2 separate regions of the Homo sapiens genome follow, and region 1 is linked to region 2. The links come from fine-mapping of genetic effects on gene expression. A gene starts in region 2. The other region holds a variant in brackets. All regions are shown on one strand. Distances are from middle to middle. Region 1 overlaps KCNQ5 (potassium voltage-gated channel subfamily Q member 5). Region 2 holds the start of DDX43 (DEAD-box helicase 43).

Evidence for each region. PIP is the estimated chance that this variant, and not a neighbour inherited with it, causes the effect.
Region 1: its variant is fine-mapped to the expression of DDX43 in monocytes after R848 (Quach 2016, PIP 0.95).

What each region holds. Positions count from the first base shown.
Region 1 is chr6:72,651,840-72,657,225 of GRCh38, reverse strand. The region is part of intron 1 of KCNQ5 (potassium voltage-gated channel subfamily Q member 5); the gene reads right to left. The region is part of intron 2 of KCNQ5-IT1 (KCNQ5 intronic transcript 1); the gene reads right to left. Among named protein-coding and RNA genes, the nearest start is that of KCNQ5-IT1, 24 kb to the right of the region's middle. The variant A/G (reference allele first, on the strand shown) is at 2,181.
Region 2 is chr6:73,392,635-73,398,020 of GRCh38, reverse strand. DDX43 (DEAD-box helicase 43) reads right to left here and starts at 3,193. Exons shown (of 17, transcript NM_018665.3): 1 at 2,866-3,193; 2 at 277-332. The coding sequence starts at 3,115. It overlaps LOC124901538 (small nucleolar RNA U13), which reads left to right and starts at 4,008; the gene lies at 4,008-4,108. It also overlaps a transcript of OOEP not described here. RefSeq lists an enhancer at 3,076-3,576.

The DNA.
Region 1 (5,386 bases), 740 kb after region 2:
ATTTATTTTAGTTTTAGAGGCAGGGTCTTGCTCTGCCATTCAGGCTGGAGTGCAGTGGTGCAATCATAATTCACCATAACCTCAAGCTCCTGGGCTCAAACTATCCTCTTGCCTCAATCTCTTGAGTAGCTACGACTATAGACATTCACCACCACGCCCAACTAATGTTTTCTATTTTTTATTTTTGCAGAGATGGAGTCTCACTGTGCTGCTCAGATTGGTCTCAAACTCCTGGCTTCAAGTGATCCTCCCACCTTGGCCTCCCAAACCATAATTTTATTAGGCTTTAAAATGTACCTTGATTCACAGGGTTTGGGTTATTAATAAAATAATTTGTTAAATGGTGTTGTACAATAAAATCTTGAAGCACCTAGGGACAGAGTCTAATGCATCCCAGATGCAATGGTCAATGGCAGTGATTAGTTCCAGGCCAAAAGTGTCAGAGCCAGAGATAAGATGCTCTCAGTGGACATAAATTTGTGTGGTGGAGAAACCCTCATAGAGCATAAATATCAGGAAGTTGAGTCTATGATGTTTATTGGATTCATAAATGAAGAAAACTAAATTTGCTTTTATTAGGTAAAAGGGAGATAAAAGCAAGACTAAGAATAATCAGTTGAGAAAGATTTTTGTTTTCCAGTTACTTGTGTTAAATGTTTTATTATAATTAAATGCATTTTAATATTGCAAAGATATAATAGATGAATAGACAATGTGATAAGAATAACTGAAATTATTTTTGCTCAGAGATTATTGTCTTTACTATGTGGGAAACTGAGCTTCATGAAAATTAAATAAAGCAATACATTTTCAAATATACCAATTGCTCCTGATGGAATACTAGGTAGAGATGCATTTGAGGACTGATCCTAGAGGCCAAACATGCAACGTTCAAGTTACAGTGGGTGAGGAGAGCTGCTGCCTTTTTAAAGTAATTAAGAAGACTTTCTAAAACTCCTGGGGCAACCAGTTCATAACACCATACTGTTTTGTGTGGTCCTGGGTCCCCAGTGAAATTTGGCTGCATGAGCGTCCAGGACAAGTAGAGTAGAAACAGCAACAAATTTTAATTATGCATCCACTTTGGTGGCCTTGTAAAGAAGAGAAGACACCATTAATACAGACAAAAGTGGTACTCTGCAGCTGAGAATCACCTGTGCCAATAAGGTTACTCTCAGATCTGTGCCAAATATCTGAGGGCAAATGGAAATTTAAAATACTATACAGATGTAAACTTTGGATGTATGGAATGTTCCTGAATATCTGCATCTTGGAAGACCCATATATAGATTCTTTCATTTTCATTCCATGCTGGTTCAGACTTTCATTAACTGCTAAACTATAACAATAAGTTCCCAGCCAGTTTCTCCAATTGCCATTTGTCTTCATTCCAGAATATACTATGCATTGGTGTCAAATCAGTCTTCTAAATTGCTGCTCCAGTAATGTTATTCCCCTACTCAAAATCCATTAATGGCTCTTCATTGCCTATTGAATCAATCCGAATTTCCTCATGATAGCACTCACAGTATGTCCCGACATATTCCTCTCTATCCAAATCTCCTATCAGTCTTCCACTTTTATGTCCCTTTTTCTTCAGTCAACAGGACAATAATTTCCTAGGAACACCACACACCAAGCTTGTCTCCATGTCTTTGCCCATGTTGTTCCTCATCCGGAGCCTGGCATTACTCTCATTTCTTACTCCCCGTTCCTCTCTAATTCCACTTTCTCTAGGAATTTCTTCTTGCTCTCTCTCAACCAGATGCTCTGTCTCTCCTTGGAATCTTCATAGCCATTTGGATGTCTCACTGTGATGGACAGATTCTCCTTTATATCATTTATATAACTGTCTCCTTAATTTGAAGACTGTGAGCTTGTGGTCTGTAGCACCTAACATAGTGCTAAAAAATGGGAAGTCAATACATATTTGCTGATTTGAACTGATCTAGCAGCATTTCAAGTATCCTTTGGTGACTAAGTTTTGTGTTATACAGATTATATGTCCATTACGATTTATTGTGGAGGATTTTTCTCTGTTTTTTTTTTTTCCATTTTGTTTGCACATAGCTACTGAAACAAGAATCCAAGGCTTGTTTTTTCTTTTCTGAGAGAAAGAAAGAAAAACAGAAAGAAAGAAAGAAAGAAAGAAAGAAAGAAAGAAAGAAAGAAAGAAAGAA[A/G]GAAAGAAAGAAAGAAAGACAGACAGACCTTGGCTATTAAACATGGAAACAAAAAGAAGGTAAGCAGTGTTTATTGGAAATATGTCTGGTTTACTACATGTTGTGCAGAAAATTACAGAACTAAGCATTTAAAAATGTTCAAGCATACTTAATTACAATTTAGTCAAAAGTACAGTTTTCTTTGTTCATTGAACAATTCCTTCAATACCTTTATTTTAATGAAAATAATATCACACTAGAATAAGTAGATGTATGTAATCATTTTCATGTGTAAATAGGTAAAAAGCCAAGAATAATCTATCTTTATCTTCATTTTCTGTTACTGAAACATATAAGAATGATCTTAAGCTCTAGAAAGCATTCAATTTATATAAAAGTGATTCTTCTGGAAATCACAATGTCTTAAAGTTGTCTTCTCCCCTCGTGCAGCACTCTCTTGATATGTCTTCAGCCTCTAGTCTTGTGTCATTGGGGACTTTTCTTTTCTCCTCTCCTATTTGTAATCACTAACCAACACTTCATGCCTAGTACATTGTTCCTTATTTCTAACTTTCACTCAGAAAACCGACTCACAAATTTATGTATTTCCATCCTTGGTTTACTGTACCTTGGTTACTGTACCAATGCACAGTATCTAGCACATAGTATCGGCCCACAGTAAATATCTCTTGGAAAACTAAATGAACAATGTTAAAGTTCTGGTCCAATTCATGAGATGACTACAGTCCATCTTCACTACAATTACTTTCTATCACTTTAAATCCAATATATTCCCAAACACAACTTAGTATCACCTCTTCATTCCCAAACCCCCAACACTCTTCCAGTTCCCTCCCCCAACTCCAGTTTCCTTCTATTCCAATTCTGATACCATATGGTCTCAAACACAATGATGTCATTTCTCTGTATTTCCCTTCTGTTTTCCCCTATCTAAAATGATGATCATTTCTATTTTTATGTTCCTATTGTCTTATTCTGGGTTATAGTCATAGCATGTACTCAATCACAGTATCAAGTATTCATTATGTGCTTACATTATGGTAGACACTAGGTTAAGTCCTGTACATAGGTATTATTTTTATTTATTTTCAAAGTAACTCAATGAGAAGATGCTATTATTTATATTTTACAGATGAGTAAACAGTTTTTCTAATATTTATTGAGTACAAAGATATGTAATTTGATATGAAACTATCTGATATCCAAATATGTATGTGTCCATAACAGAGTAAAATACATAATACCTTATCTTAATTTTTCTCCTAGAACAGTTTCTCTAATAAATATTTAAAAATAGTTGTCTTGAAAAATATTAAAATGTTACTTTACTTTGATAAATGAGTATCCTTAGCAAGAGAATTAACTATTTTTATATCCACATTTAACAACATGAATTAGTATTTAGCACACATTTGGACTGACAAAATAACATGCTATATTTGCAAAGATGTTATTCAGAGATTGGCATTCATGCAGTAATTTCAAATAAATATTTTTAATGAACGGTATAATGACCACAACTATACAATAATGTCATTGGTAAAAATCACCAAAATATAGTAAGAATTTTAAAAGGCATTTTTAGCTTCCTCTTTTGGGTATCAACCATTATCTTCTCTCTGAATAATACTGAAAGAAAATTTACATCTATGCAACAAATTTCACAATTAGAAATGGAGATAAAATTACATAAGCAGACACTAATGGAAAATCTATTAAAACAAAGGAGGATCTTTAAAGCCAAAACTTGAAGCACTCAGGAAAGAAAGAATCATTGAGTGTATCTAAGACAAGCAGTAAATGGCATGCTCCACTGATTCTGACAACCTGCAGGTTGATTATGAAACACCATCACAAAGGCTTCAAGACATGGAAAAATTCAGAAAATGTGGCAAGTGAAACATATTATAACGAAAATCCAAGGGAGAGGTCTCTTTTTTAAAAAAAAATGAAAGCCACTCTTATGGAATAAACAAACTATAGTAAGCAATTGCTACCATAATTCTTACAATCTCTGAATACCTGTGATTGTCTGTGAATAAATGGTACCAACTGAAATAGGGAATTCATCACAGAATGCTGTAAACAGCATTTGGGTGCACGGCTTTATATACGTATATATAAATTCACATAATCCTCAGTGTGATATAGTTCTAACCACTCTCATTTTCTAGATGGGAAAACTGGGGCCTGAAGTTTCCTTGTCTAAGATCATACTTAGAGCCTCTTGTGAGGCTGAATTGAACTCAGTCCTTTGACTAGGATTGGGTGTTCTTTCCTCACTAGCACAGTGCCTCTCCTCAGGGTTGAAACAGGATACAGGAATACAGCTCTTTTGACATTCACAAGTATGCCTTCTACCTCTCCAAAAGCCCACGAGAAATCCCACTGGCAACGGTGAGGAGAGAAAAAGGCTGTGATATGGATCAGAAAAAGTCTTACAGATCCAAGGATATTCAGGTTAGATAAGAAAGGGAACAGTACAAAGCCAGAGTGACCCCCAGTTCAATCCTGCTCAATTCTAGGGAATTACCACCAAGCAATTCTGGCTTTTTGTGGGAGAAGGAAAGGGGAGGGAGGAAAAAGAGGGAGGAGAAAAGGTAAAGAGGGAGGGGGAAAAACCAGGAGAAAAGAAGAGGGAGAGAAAAATGAGAGTGGGACTCAAAATTGGAGAGAATGATTCAGAGGAATTAATATCTCACTCTAAGGAAGCACATAATTAAAATTTCTTCATCTTCTGAAACATCTAACTAAAAAAGACACAGGCTAGAAAGCCTCTTTCTCTCACTTTTTTTTTTTTTTTTTGCTTCTGCCTCAAGCACTTTTAAAGTTGCCTACACATTACAGAATGTTTTGCTTGATTTCCTTTCAATGTCCCGGAGAATATTTGGAATGTTTCTTAATTTACATATGATGTGGTGTTATTTAGATATAGATCCCATGAAAGATAAAAATTTTTTAAAGTGAGTGTAAGTGTGAGCATTGAGACAGGAGAAGGAGGTAATTAAAAGAGATAAATAAAGCTTATAAAAGCCGCTTCTTACCCTAACCACCGTCATCAAAAAAGAAATCTGTAATTCATGAATAAAATATAATCTGAGTTTTACAACAGCATTATAAAGATTCTTTTTGAGTATAAGTTTTAAAAGTGTTATTGTGTTATAAAATTTAATGGGAAATTTTTCTTTCCCTTAAAAATAAACCCA
Region 2 (5,386 bases):
GGCCAACACGGTAAAACCCCGTCTCTACTAAAAATAAAAAAATAAAATAAAATAAATTAGCTGGGCTTGGTGGTGGGAACCCGTAATTCCAGCTACTCAGGAGGCTGAAGCAGGAGAATTGCTTGAACCCAGGAGGCAGAGGTTGTACTGATATCACGTCACTGCACTCCAGCCTGGGAGACAGAATGAGGCTGTCTTAAAAAGAAAAGTAGAGTTAGGTGCTCCCTTAGAAATGCATGATGCTCTCTTAAGGGCCGAAAAACACAGATGGCTTACTTGGATTGTGGTGTTTGTTGTACTTTGTATATTCTTTATTTTTGACCCACCACGACCTGTTTTTAAAAATAAAGGAATATATTGTTATAAGTTGAAATTAGTAAGTTGAAAATTTACCCATTTTCCTCAACAAACATTCTCTAGTTCTTCCCCCCAAATGCTCCTAGGGTTCAACAATCATTTTTTGTTTGGAAAGAGGGAAGTAAGAGGTTCTATTCCAAATTTTGGTGGGTTTTAGGAGACTCTTATCCCAGACAGGTGGAGACTATGGATTCTGTATCAGCTTGCACAAAACTTAATTGGGTCCAAACTGGTGGAGAGGATGTAGAAATTGGAACTCTTTCATACAACTCAACAAATAAGTTTTGAAAAATGGGCAAACACTTGAATAGACATTTCTCCAATGACATACAAATGGCCAACAGGCATGAGATGTTCAACATCACTAATCAGGTCCACGCAAATCGAAACCACAAAATGATTGTCACCTCACATCTGGTAGGATGACCATTATCAAAAACAGAAAAAAAGTGTTGGTAAGAATGTGGAGAAATTGGAACCCCTGTGTACTGTTGGTGGGATTGAAAATGGTGCTGCCACTATGGAAAACAGTATAGATTAACTAAAAAATTAAAAACAGAATTAACATATGATCCAGCAGTCTCACTTGGGGTATACATCCAAAAGAATTTAAAGCTGAGTCTCAAAGATATATTGCACTTCCATTTTCATAATAACACTACTGAAATCAAAAGGTGGAAGCTACCCATTTATCATAGACTGATTAATAGATAAAGTAAGGTATATACTTAATAATGGAATACCATTCAGCCTTAGTAAGGAAAAAAATCCTGTCTCATGCTACAAAATGGGTAAGCCTGGAGGATATTATTCTTAGAGAAATGAGCCAATTACAAAGACAATTACTGCATGATTCTACTTATATGGATTACCTAAAGTAATCTAACTCAGAAACAATGTAAATGGTGGGTCCCTGGGATGGGGCAGGAAAAAATGGGGAGCTGTTCAATGAGTATACAGTTTTAGTCATGCAAGTTCCAGAGATCTGGGATACAACATTGTGCTTATTATTAGTATTGTGATATACGTTTAAAAGAGGGTATTTCATTTTTTACAATAAAAAAGATGGATCCAGATCCAACATCAAGTGAGTGCTCTGTAGCACAGTGCCCTTTCATCTGCTAAGTATTAACTTAAGTGATTTTTATTGCAAACCTAGTGGCTTTCTTTCTTGGAGCATCATTCTTCAGATCTGAGCCCAAGCCTTCTGAAAGGCCAATGAGTCTCTGGGTAGTACAGCAATTAGTCTTACAATGCACTATTTTGTAGCAGCCTCCATCTATTCATTTTTCTCAGGTTTTAAAAAGGGTGAAATACACCTAATAGGTAAAATGTGGCAATTTATACTCGGGCTTAATGGCAATCAATGGGGTAATCATTCTAATCATTTTTAAATGCTTTTCAAAAAAATTCAGAAATGGGCCGGGCTTACGCCTGTAATCTCAGCACTTTGGGAGGCCGAGGTGGGTGGATCCACAGGAGTTCGAGACCATCCTGGGTAATATGGTGAAACCTCATCTTTACTAAAAACACAAAAATTAGCCAGGTGTGGTGGCGCACGTAATTTCAGCTACTAGGGAGGCTGAGGTGCTAGAATCGCTTGAGCCCGGGAGGTGGAAGTTGTAGTGAGCCGAGATCACGCCACACTGCACTCCAGCTGGGGCCACAGAGCTGCCTCAAAAAAAAAAAAAATCAAAAGAAAGAAAAAAATTAAAAATTCAGAATTGAATGTTAACACTCAAGATGTAGTAAGAAAAGTTTTTAACTTTTTAAAAATTAAGGAAACTAAAAGCAAGATACAACTGCTCTAGGCAGCCCTACAATGACCTTATAGCTTTTCTTTGATTTCTGGCTCTAAATGGTACTCATAGAAAGACTGATTAAGTTTTGTTTTTCATTCTGGGGTTAGCTGTCTGTTAAAAGGCCTGTTCTAAGCATCCCTCTTCAGCCCTAAGATTTCATAAGTCTTCTAGGAGTTGCTCTCCCAAATACATTGTCTGTATAAACACCAAAAGGTGGATTAAATTACTTTTTTTTTTTTTTTTTAATTGAGACGGAGTCTTGCTCTGTCACCTAGGCTGGAGTGCAGTGGCGCGATCTCAGCTCACTGCCAACTTCTGCCGCCGGGTTCAAGCCATTCTCCTGCCTCAGCCTCCGGAGTATCTGGGATTACAGGCGCGCGCCACCACGCCCAGCTATTTTTTTTAATATATATATTTTTAGTAGAGACAGGGTTTTGCCATGTTGGCCAAGCTGGTCTCGAATTCCTGACCTGGGGTGATCCGCCCGCCTCGGCCTCCCAAAATACTGGGATTACAGGCGTGAGCCAACGCGCCCGGCCAGATTAAATTATACTCTATCCCCAGGTTTTACAAATAGCTCTGGGAGAGACCTGAACCTCACTAGGTGGCAGCTGATTGGAGGTGAGGCAGTGGGGAGGAAATGCCTTCGCCCAGGCTCCGCCCCTGGCCCCACCTATCCTGCCCTGCCAGCCACTCCCATTCTCACCGATTACCGCGCCAACAAAGTGGCTCTTCAAAGCAAAACACAGCGGCAGTTCCTCGTGACCAGCGGCCACGGCCTCCGGGGGCCTAGAGGTGCCTCTCCAGCGACCACCTCTGCCGACACTATATCCCTCAGGACCTGTTCGATTCAACTCCTCCGCCGGCCTCCTCTCTGGCGCTCGGGACACTGTCGAGCTTCGCCGACTAGCAACGACCCACGTAGAGGCCTTGGGAGCTCCTCCGTGGTGGGACATTGTTCCAAGAAGGGGCGCGTCCGACGTCGTTGCCGTCCAGCTCTGCACCACCTGACCGTGACGTCGTAAGAGTAGCGTGCCAGGGAAGCCACGCAGCCGCTACTTAAGGAGCCCGCACGAGGCTAGCCCCCCCGCCCACGCTCTCTATCCCGCCCACTTCGCACTGATTTCACGCAGCCATTGGCCAGTGAGCGTTGTGGGCGGGACTTTCCCAGTTTTAGCCAATCGGTTTTCTGAACCGTGGGAGTGTGCCTTGAAGTAGTCGATGTGCCCCGCCCCCCACCCCCCCACTGTGTATTCCTTTCCAGGCGTGGGACTTTTTCCAAACGCCCAATTTGCTCCCTCCCCTACTGGACACACACCTCGGGTTCCTGGCATCTCAGTGCCTTGGAAACTTTTTTTTTTCTTTTTAAATAGAGACGGGGTGTCGCCGTGTTGCCCAGGCAGGTCTTGAACTCTTGGCTTCTGGCTTCAAGTGATCTTCCAGCCTCGGCCTCCCAAAGTGCTGGGATTACAGTCAGCCACTGCACCGGAAATGTTTTCAACCGTGACCCATAAAGGTAAGTCACTGTTACAAGGTGACCCAATCCACACATAAAAAACTTGAAACAACAGATTGACAAAACAGCATTTATCCTCGCTATGTAAGCTGCATTTTGATACATTTACGCTTATTTTAGTTTTTGAAATGGTTGTAATCCACAAAATTAAAAAAAAAAAATTTAATAGAGATGGGAGTTCCCAGTATGTTGCCCAAGGCTGGTCTTGAACTCCTGGACTCAAGTGATCCTCCCACCTCCACCTCCCATAGTGCTGGGGTTACAGGCCTGAGCCACTGCACTCGGCTCACAAAATGTATTTAATGGCCCACAGCTTAAAGATCACTGACTTGATCCTTTTGTAAGTCATAAGTGTGATTGGGTTTTCATGCTCTTGTGTCAAATGTGCCTCCCTCAAACCTTGTTACGAAGTGGGCACACTACCCACCTGATGTGAAAAATGAAGAGAAAAAGATCACTGGCTTGAGAGACATTCATTGCTCTACACAGTCTTCTGGATGTTTGCTATGTTTTTTTTGTTTGTTTTCTTTTGTTTTGTTTTTGACCTCTGTCGCCTAGGCTGGAGTGCAGTGGTGCGATCACTCACTGCAGATTCGACCTGTTGGACTCAAGTGATACTCCCACCACAGCCTCCCGAATAGTTGGGACTACAGGTGTGCACCACCATGCCAGGCTAATTATTTTGTAAAGACAAGACCTCCCTATGTTGCCCGGGCTGGTATCCAACTCCTCCTGCCTTGGCCTCACACAGTTGAGGGATTACAGGTATGAGCCACAGTGCCTGGCCTGCCATAATTTTAGAGCTAAGGAAATAAATTGAATAGATTCCTGAAGCATTACCGTCACTGCAGCCTGGCTCTGTGGCTGGACATACTACTACTCCAGGGCTTCAAGCCAGCTGCAAGTGCACTCCTTTGATTAGGATCTTTGAATTATCTGAACAAATTTCAGTTTAGGCCAGCAGGGATAACTCATACCTGTAATCTCAACACTTTAGGAGGCCTAGGCGGAGGATCTCTTGAGCCCCAAGGTTCAACATCAGTCTGGGTAACATAGTGAGACCCTGCCGGGTGTGGTGGTACAGGCTGTAGTCCCAGCTACTCAGGAGGCTGAGGTGGGAGGATCACTGAGCCAGGGAGGTTGAGGCTACAGTGAGCCGAAGTGCCGAAATGGTGTCACTGCACTCCAGTCTGGGCAACAGAGCAGAGACCCTGTCTCAAAAAAAAAAAATTTTTTTTTTTTCAGTTCAATCATCCATCAAACACAGTGGACACCAGGCCAGGCATGGTGTGGCTCATGGCTGTAATCCCAGCACCTTGGGAATGTGAGGCAGGCAGATCACTTGAGGTCTGGAGCTCGTGACCAGCCTGGTCAACATGGTGAAACCCCATCTCTAATAAAAATGCAAAAAATATTGGCTGGATGTGGTGGCTCATGCCTGTAATCCCAGCACTTTGGGAGGCAGAGGCGGCTGGATCACAAGGTCAAGAGATCGAGACCATCCTGGCCAACATGGTAAAACCCCATCTCTACTAAAAATACAAAAATTAGCTGGGCGTGGTGGTGTGCGCCTGTAGTCCCAGCTACTTGGGAGGCTGAGGCAGAATAATTGCTTGAACCCGGGAGGCAGAGGTTGCAGTGAGCCAAGATTGTGCCACTGCACTTCAGCCTGATGACAGAGCGAGAGACTCCATCTCAAAAAAAAAAAAAA